Homo sapiens: one gene and its partner. The protein of the gene in region 1 purifies or fractionates together with the protein of each later gene. This does not show direct contact. Each region holds a gene or a part of one and is shown on either strand. Other genes may lie near its edges. The genes, in order: TRAM1 and HM13.

Region 1 (4,394 bases):
CTCTGACATTTCCTCAATGTATCTGCACAACAGGCTTAACAGTTCTGCAAAAAAAAATCAATTTCTCTATTATTCTAGCACAAGTACTGTAATTCTATAATTATGTTAACTTTGAGATTCAGCAGCAATTGTTTTAAAAGTCGAATAGCAAAACTAACCTAGTCTACAAAGTCCTATATATAGATAACATGCTTTGAAATCCTAACACCTTAATATATGGTAAGAAAAAGGAAGAACTCGCACAAACTTCACTTTTGTGTATCACTTTAACACTCACTTTTGAATTGACTTAAAAACCTCTATTTAGTATTTTTGTCTATTTAGATTTTCAAATTTTATAAATTTATATAAAGGTGAAAATCCACTGTTTAAAAAAATCACTAACATGTGAGGCAAGGTATAGGTGGTGGACTTCCCTAGAAATATAGTAAGAGAATGTAAAATAGTTTATATAAAATCAAAGTTATACTATGTGTCAGAATTTCTGATTTATATTTCATTTCATTCAAAGCACTGCAAATATACCTTGCAGGTCACAGTACCCCTAAAATATGTTTTTAAAGTCAGGAATTCTTACCATGTGGAGATGGTTTATGACAAGTTACAGAAAATTGAATATACTACATATATTAAAGTACTACTTTAAGGTCAAAGCAGAAAGTACATGCAAGTATCAAATTCAGAAAGTGAATACAAATGTTTAACATTGGGTTTTTTTTGAGACAGGGTCTTCTTGCTCTGTCCTTCAGGCTGGAGTGCAGTGGTGAAACCTTGGCTCACCGCAGCCTCCACCTCCTGGGCTCAAGTAATTATCCCACCTCAGCCGCCCAGCTGAGACCACAGGTGCGTGCTATCTATCACTCCTGGCTAATTTTTAAAAAATCATTTGTAGAGACAGGGTCTCCCTATGTTGCCTAGGCTGGTCTCGAACTCCTGGGCTCCAGTGATTCTCCTGCCTTGGCCTCCCAAAGTGTTGGGATGTTTACAGGCATAAGCCAGAGCACCAGGCCTAGCACTGTATTTACCTTCACACCATATCATCTGATACTTGCAAAAAATGGCTGTGAGGAGAACAGTACAGGTGATATTATTTCCTGATAAAGAGCAGAAAAATTGAGGCTCAGACTTGGGTCACCCAGTAGGTAGGTGGCACAGCCCAGACTTAAAGCTTGAGAATGTTAGTTTCCTTCTACCTACCCTTTAACTATACCTGCTACCTCCTTAGCAGTGGTTTCAAACATGCATGACACAATCAGGAGTAAATAATATCTGTATCTAGATCCAGAAAAGCCCATTTGATGAGAGGCGAAAATAAGGTTAAAATATTATTTAATTTTAAAATTAAAAAAAAAAACAAATATGCTCCATTAAAAAGAAAATGTATTCACCTTTTGGTCACTGGTAATATCATTCCATTAGGTTTTCTCAAGGATTCTTAACGTCGCTCATCTTTTTTTAAGCACTCCTATGTCCCAGGCACTATCCTAGACTCTGGAAATACAGACTCGTAAAAATACTCCAAAATCTCTACTCTCACTTGTTACATGCAGGAGAGAGGAGACAAAACAAGGCAGGAGCAAAATAATTTGTATATTTACTGAGACATAAAGGCTCCAGAGAAAAATTAAAAAGGGAAAAAAGCAAAGGAATGAGCGTGTGTATTGGGGAGCGAGGGGAAAAACGTAGGATGTTACTCGTTCACCTTGCAAAGTTTATCATCCACATTCAACAGCTGTTAAATAAGTCATCAAAATACTAGATACGTGGGAAGAGAATTTACACACTCCTGACATTCCCATCCTCTCCTACTTCAAGAAACAAAATTACTCGATTCCTTGGCACCGCTGTTCAGAACCTCGATTTATCCATCAGACCTTGTTTCTTTAAAGCGTCAGGGCAAAAAGTTCGTTAACTGGTAATAATATCAGTTTAAAAGACAAAAATGAAAACAATCTGGCGCGCCTCCACTGCGCCGGTGCCCGGCGGCCACCGCCCTTCAAGTCGAAAGCAGATGCCTGACTCCGGTTTCTCGCTCACCCCAATCTCGGAGCTACCGGGGGCTCCCCTGTCACTCGGGGCCTGTGGTCTCCAGGCCGGCACTCCTCAGACCCGGGGGCCGGGCCTCGGCCTTCCCCGGCCCTCGCGGGGCTGACGCTCACCGCGGCCGAGGCTGGCAGTCCCCCCAAGTCCGCCCACCCGCCCCGAGCCAGCTCGGCAGCGCAGGGGCCGCCCCCGCCCGCAGGCCCCTCGCCGGCTGCCACGTAACCCTTCGCGGGAACCAGGAACTGCGCCGCGCAGCCTGCGGGAGGGGGCGGCGGCGGGTCAGGAAGGGGGCGACGCGGCGGTCCCCACCCCCTGCGGGCCGCGATGAGGCCCACCGGGACTTTGCATCTCCGGGCCGGCCGCCGGGGAGCTGCCGCCGACGTGGGGCAGGGCAGGGAAGGCCTGCACCTCAGGGACTGGGGGTCTGCACCCACCCCGGGCCCGAGCCCCCCGCGTCCTGGGCGGAGAAGCCGGGGCTGGCATCTGGAGCCCGGGCCCGGGCTGGAGGTGGCGGGGCAGGCGGTTGGGACTCGGGGCGGGCTCACCTCAAACATGAGCCCCAGCAGGAAGACCATCGCCACACAGGAGACGATGTCCGCGTGATTCTGCAGGACGAATTCGTGGCTCAGCACTGGGGGGCTCTTGGTGCTTTTCTTGCGAATCGCCATGGTGGGGCCGCCGCCCGCGCCTGCAGGTGCTCCGCCCCGGTTCTGCTCTTCCCAGCTGCTCACCGACTCGCCGCCGCCTCCCGCTGGCTGCTCCTCACGGCCCCGCTGCAGCCGCTCGCTGGGGCTTCACTTCCCATCCCACAGCCAGTACGCAGCCGCCGGGCCGCCCGGGGGAAAAAAAAAAACACAACAGCTAGCCCGCAGCGGGGGCGAGCATGCGCACCAGGGAGACGACGCTCCCTGGTGCCGCGGCCGCCTCCGCGAGCCCACAGCGCCACCTGGGGACCGGAGGCCGCTGGCCCGCGGCCGGGCGAGCGTGCAGGAATGTGAGCGGCGCTTCCCTGCTTCGCGCCGGGCCCGGGTTTGGGAGTCGTTTGAGGCGCGAGCTTCCTGCGCCTGCTCAGCAGCCTGAGGCCGCGGCCGGGTGCCCTCCTGCCCTCCTGGCCATCCAGGGATTGGGTGTCAGTGGCCTGTTGCACATTGTCACTTCTACAAGTGACTAACACCGTCAGGATAATCTAAAACTACGAATACTACCTGACTCCACAAGGGTACGGTGTATTCTCCAGTTTTAGCATCTGCCTTAAAAATTACCTCAGAGTTAAGCACTGCTGGGGACTTATTTCTACTCTTGGTAAGTTTGGACTAACTTAAAAAAAAAAAAAGAGCTGACCCTATTCTGGTCTGCCTCTCCGTCCCCACCCCCATCCCCGTCCCCATCCCCACCCCTATCCCCCACTGGCCTCAGACTGAAGACGAAGGGATCAGTTTGGGTTTACTGGCTTCACATATATTCAAATTAACAACATGTTTTAGTAATCTAAGGGAAATAGTAAAAGAGTTAAAAAGGATCGTGGATTAAGACACGTCCTCCTCTTATCGTTTTGCCCAAACCTGGAGTCCTTTGTATTCTTTTTCCTGAAGAATTGCTCTCCTGTTTACCCATAAGCCAAATGTAGAAACCAAAGTCATGCTAGATTGAGCCCTTTCAGCGCCCTTCCACATCCAGTCATCACCAATTCGAGGCAGACCTATCACCCCGCTTCCCCACTACCGCAGTCCGAGGGTACTTGCCTCTTGCCTACAATATTACAACTCTGGTGTAACCACTTAGTGGTTTAAGAATGTGGGTTGTTAAATCAGAATTCTGCCACTTATTACTTGTACGATCAAGGACAAGTTACTTAATCTCTATGGGACCCGATTTCCTCATTTTTAAAAATGTATTCATTTATGTACTTACTGAGGGTTGACTGTGTCCTGGGCACTGGGGATACAGAACTGAAATACAAATTAAATTATTCCTAGGGACTTATCATTCTAGTGTGGGAGAGAATCTTTAAACAAGATTTCAAAAGCGAAACAGATGTTAAATTGAGTTGAGCAACCAGGAGAAAAATAAAGCAAGGGGAATAGGAAAGTGCGAGGCACTTATACTTGCCTGAAGACCTGCAGGAGGTGAGGGAGCAAGCCCTGTGGATATCATCTATAAAGTGGGGATAACTATTGCTCATTTTAGTGATTAAATGAGATGATTGAAGGAAACTGCTTAGCGGGGAGTAAGGGCTTTATAAATTTAGTCAGGGATTATTCTTTTCCTCCTTCTGGGCAATCACTAGTTTCATTTCCCTTCAGATCACCTTTCAACGTTTATACTAGAATGATGCTTCTACTGGCAGAAAG
Region 2 (3,809 bases), on another chromosome or scaffold:
AGAAGGCCAGGCCAAAAAGGTTGTTGGCAATCCAGTGCTGAGGAAAGCGGGGAGTGAGACCAGCTTGCTGTGACCCACCCTGCCCTGTCAACCCCATCCTCCCCTTCTGCCCAGGTCCTGACTACTCACCTTCCTCAGCAGGTACCAGACGCCAACGATGCTGCTCAGGCCCAGGCACACCAGGTCCTTGGTGTCAAATTCATAATTGATGATCTCTGAGCAGAGAGGCCAGGTAAGTCCACTCCCTGAGGCAGGGCTACCCCTCCCACCTGTCAGCCCCTGGACGGAGGAGGGCATGGCTGTGGGCACTGTGAGAGGTTCACAGGCTGGCGGGGCTAAGCCTTGGCTGCCCCAGATTAGTATGAGTTTCAGAAGGGGAGAGCTCACTGGAGCCACCCCAACCCCTCCAATTTCCTACAGGAGGGAATGGAGGCCCAGAGAGAGACTTACAAGCCTGGCACAGTGTCAGCGGGAAGTGGTCTTTGGTGTTAGAAGCACAGGCTTTGTTACTTGTAGCTGGGTGACCTTGGGGAAGGCAGTGCCCTCTCTGAGCTTCAGTTTTCTTATCTGTAAAAAGGGGATAACAGCACCCCTTCTTAGGGCTGCTGTGGGGGAATAAGTAAGACAGTCCTTACAATGCATTCAGCACAGTGCCTGGCACATAGTGGGTGCTCAGTCAGTGCCAGCTGCCTCTGAGCCCAGGTCTTTAGAAAGGTCGAGTTAATTCTGGAATCTTTCTACTTTGCCACCAAAGGATGAAGAAGGTTAGCGGCAGCCTCAGTTCACTAGCAGGCGATGAAGAAGGGAAGAGATGCAGGTCTCAAGGAAAGGCCGGAGTCCCCGAGGCTGCTTTTGTGGGGGGCCCTGTGGTAGACATCTTGATGTTAGACCATTCTCAATTGCTTCCAAGCTTCCTAAGAAGACAACTAGAGGCTGTGGAGTTTGCCGGGAGTCACAGAGTCCAGACACTCCTTTCACATTCCAGAGTGTTAGCAGACTGCTTGCTGCTTGTCCCCTAATTTGTTTTTTCATCTGTGGTAAGAGCACCCTGATTTGTTTTCTATAAAGTATCTGTTAAACTTATTTAGCATAACCACAGAGGCATTGTATTCACGCTGTCACACACAGACACAAACACACATACGACACAATCAATATCCACATTTAGCCCCCCAAATGCATTCCTTCTGAGGCTCATTTATATGTCTTCATGTGCCACAGCCCATCATTTAAATAATGGATATTTTCAATGCCAATTCCTTTGTTGACTTTCTCAATATCTTCTGCAGACATCTTCATGACCCCAACACACAGAGCATGCTGTTTTCCTTCCGCTGTGACTGCTACAATCGTATCTACTGCAGCAGGGTACAGCTTAGCTCCAGGAGAAGTTAAACCTGGACACATAATATTTGCGCCACTGAGTACAAATTTGATAGCTCCTTTATCAACCTGCTGGTGTGGCAGGATAAAAGGGTATTTGTGAAGCAACCTTAGAGTTGGACAAAAAGGCCCCTTTCTTTGTCTAAAAAACAATAATTCCCCACTTACGGTAAGGATTTCTGTATGTTCGTGGCATCGGACTATTTTGACAGGATCTTTCTTAGGCATGATTTGATTAAGCCATGGTTCAATACCTGGAAATTGCTCTACCAGTTGGCTCTTAATGCCCTTAATAACTGACGTTTTCAACTGGATGCAGTTGGACACACTTTCCTTTTCATCAAACTTCTTGAACATGATCCAGGGTGAAGCGGGCGACAACAGGGAAACAAACGGAATTGGCAAGGCTCCGGTGGAGTCCCCTGCAGGAAGGCCGGCGCGGGCGCCACGCGGCCTGCCAGACGGTCAGAGCCGTTGTCGCTAACCGGAAGATGACACAGCCAGCGCGCTTTACGGCCCGGTGAAATCTGACAACTTCCGCTCTCTGAACGCCACGTCACGACTGCGCTTGGCCCGCTGTTCCTTCGACTGCTGATTCCTCTCCAATGAGGATCGCTGAAACAGTAGGGCTTGACAAGCTAGAAATGATACGAATGCTTTCTCCTTGCCGGAACAGAAGACTGCAGATGCGCACCCTGATGAGTTAGTTCTAACTGGACACGAGACCGACTCACGGCCATTTTCCAGCTTCTCTTATAGCTAAATGGACAGGGAATATGGATGCCTCTCCTTCCTTCTGGCTGGACAGTGGAGTGATGACACTATCCTGACCCGAGGGCCAGTGCTGTATATGGCGGAGCATGAGATAGAGAGGGCCTGGGACCTTGAAGACTGTGGTATAAGCCTAGCCTTTTTACTGTTTTATTTATTTATTTTTTTAGACGGGGTCTTGCTCTGTCGCCCAGGCTGGAGTGCACTGACCGTGGCTTACTGCAGCCTCGAACTCCAGGGCTCAAGTGACCCTCCTGCATCAGCCTCCCAAAGTGTTGGGATTACAGGCATGAGCCACCGCGCCTGGCCAAGCTTAGTCTTTTTTTTTTTTTTTTGAGACAGGGTCTCACTCTGTCGCCCTGGCTGGAGTGCAGTGGCGCGATTTCGGCTCACTGCAACCTCCGCCTTCCCAGGTTAAAGCGATTCTCCTGCCTCAGCCTCCCGAGTAGCTAGGATTACAGGTACACGCCACCATGCCTGGCTAATTTTTTTTGTGTTTTTAGTAGAGACGGGGTTTCGCCGTGATGGCCAGGCTGGTCTGGAACTCCTGATCTCAAGTCATCCGCCTGCCTCAGCCTCCCAAAGTGCTGGGAGGCGTGAGCCATCTCACCTGGCCCAAGCTCAGTCTTTAAAAAAAAAAAATCAACAATTGTTTAACAGAGGTTCCTTAGAGATGCACAAAGCAATCACATAAAATTGCTGCCGATTAGGGACAAGGCAGCATGTGCTAGGCACCAGTAAGAGAGAGTGCTACGGCCGGGCGCGGTGGCTCACGCCTGTAATCCTAGCACTTTGGGAGGCGAATCAAGAGGTCAGGGGATGGAGACCATCCTAACACGGTGAAACCCCGTCTCTACTAAAAATACAAAAAAATTAGCCGGGCGTAGTGGCGGGCGCCTGTAGTCCCAGCTACTCGGGAGGCTGAGGCAGGAGAATGGCGTGAACCCAGGGGGTGGAGCTTGCAGTGAGCCAAGATTGTGCCGCTGCACTCCAGCCTGGGCGACAGAGCGAGACCCTGTCTCGAAAAAAAAAAAAAAAAAAAAAAGTGCTAGATTTCACATGCTCAGTATTGTATACAAGAGAAATACCTGCTGGGCGTGGTGGCTCACTCACGCCTGTAATTCTAGCGCTTTGGGAGGCTGAGGTGGGCAGATCACTTGAGGTCAGGAGTTTGAGACCAGCCTGGCTAGCATGGCAAAACTCCATCTCTACTAAAAATACAAAAAAATTAGCTGGGTGTGGTAGCACACGCCTGTAATCTCAATTACTCAGTTGGCTGAGGTTTCAGTGAGCTGAGATCGCACCACTGCACTCCACCCTGGGTGACAGAACAAGACTCTGTCTCAAAAAACAAAAAACAAAGAAATACCTGCTGTTTGGTCAAGCATTGATAATCTTGTTACAGCATTTGAATCCATACCCTAACTAACCTACAAATCCCAGGATCTCCACACTTCCCCATAGTTTGCATTTTTTTACAATTTTTTTGTAGAGATGAGGTCTCACTATGTTGCCTAGGCTGGTCTCAAATTCCTGGCCTCAAGTGATCATCCTGTCTTGGCCTCCCAAATTGCTGTGATTACAGGCATGAGACACTGTTTCTGGCCAGTTTTTATTTTTGAAAAAAGAGCTGTGGAACCCCCTTTTCAAACCTT

The links.
Region 2: the proteins of TRAM1 (region 1) and HM13 purify together in Homo sapiens (affinity purification with western blotting, with the first as the bait; one study listed by BioGRID). This does not show direct contact.

The regions. Positions count from the first base shown.
Region 1 is NC_000008.11:70,605,489-70,609,882, forward strand, and holds the start of TRAM1 (translocating chain-associated membrane protein 1), read right to left. Parts: upstream 2,929-4,394; 5' UTR 2,712-2,928; coding exon 2,589-2,711; intron 2,182-2,588; exon of another isoform or gene 1,389-2,181; intron 1-1,388. UniProt on the Homo sapiens protein: Involved in the translocation of nascent protein chains into or through the endoplasmic reticulum (ER) membrane by facilitating the proper chain positioning at the SEC61 channel.
Region 2 is NC_000020.11:31,545,435-31,549,243, reverse strand, and holds part of HM13 (signal peptide peptidase), read right to left. Parts: intron 1,866-3,809; exon of another isoform or gene 1,741-1,865; coding exon of another isoform or gene 1,195-1,740; exon of another isoform or gene 1,163-1,194; intron 216-1,162; coding exon 130-215; intron 38-129; coding exon 1-37. Other genes in the region: MCTS2 (malignant T-cell-amplified sequence 2), read right to left, coding at 1,195-1,740. UniProt on the Homo sapiens protein: Catalyzes intramembrane proteolysis of signal peptides that have been removed from precursors of secretory and membrane proteins, resulting in the release of the fragment from the ER membrane into the cytoplasm.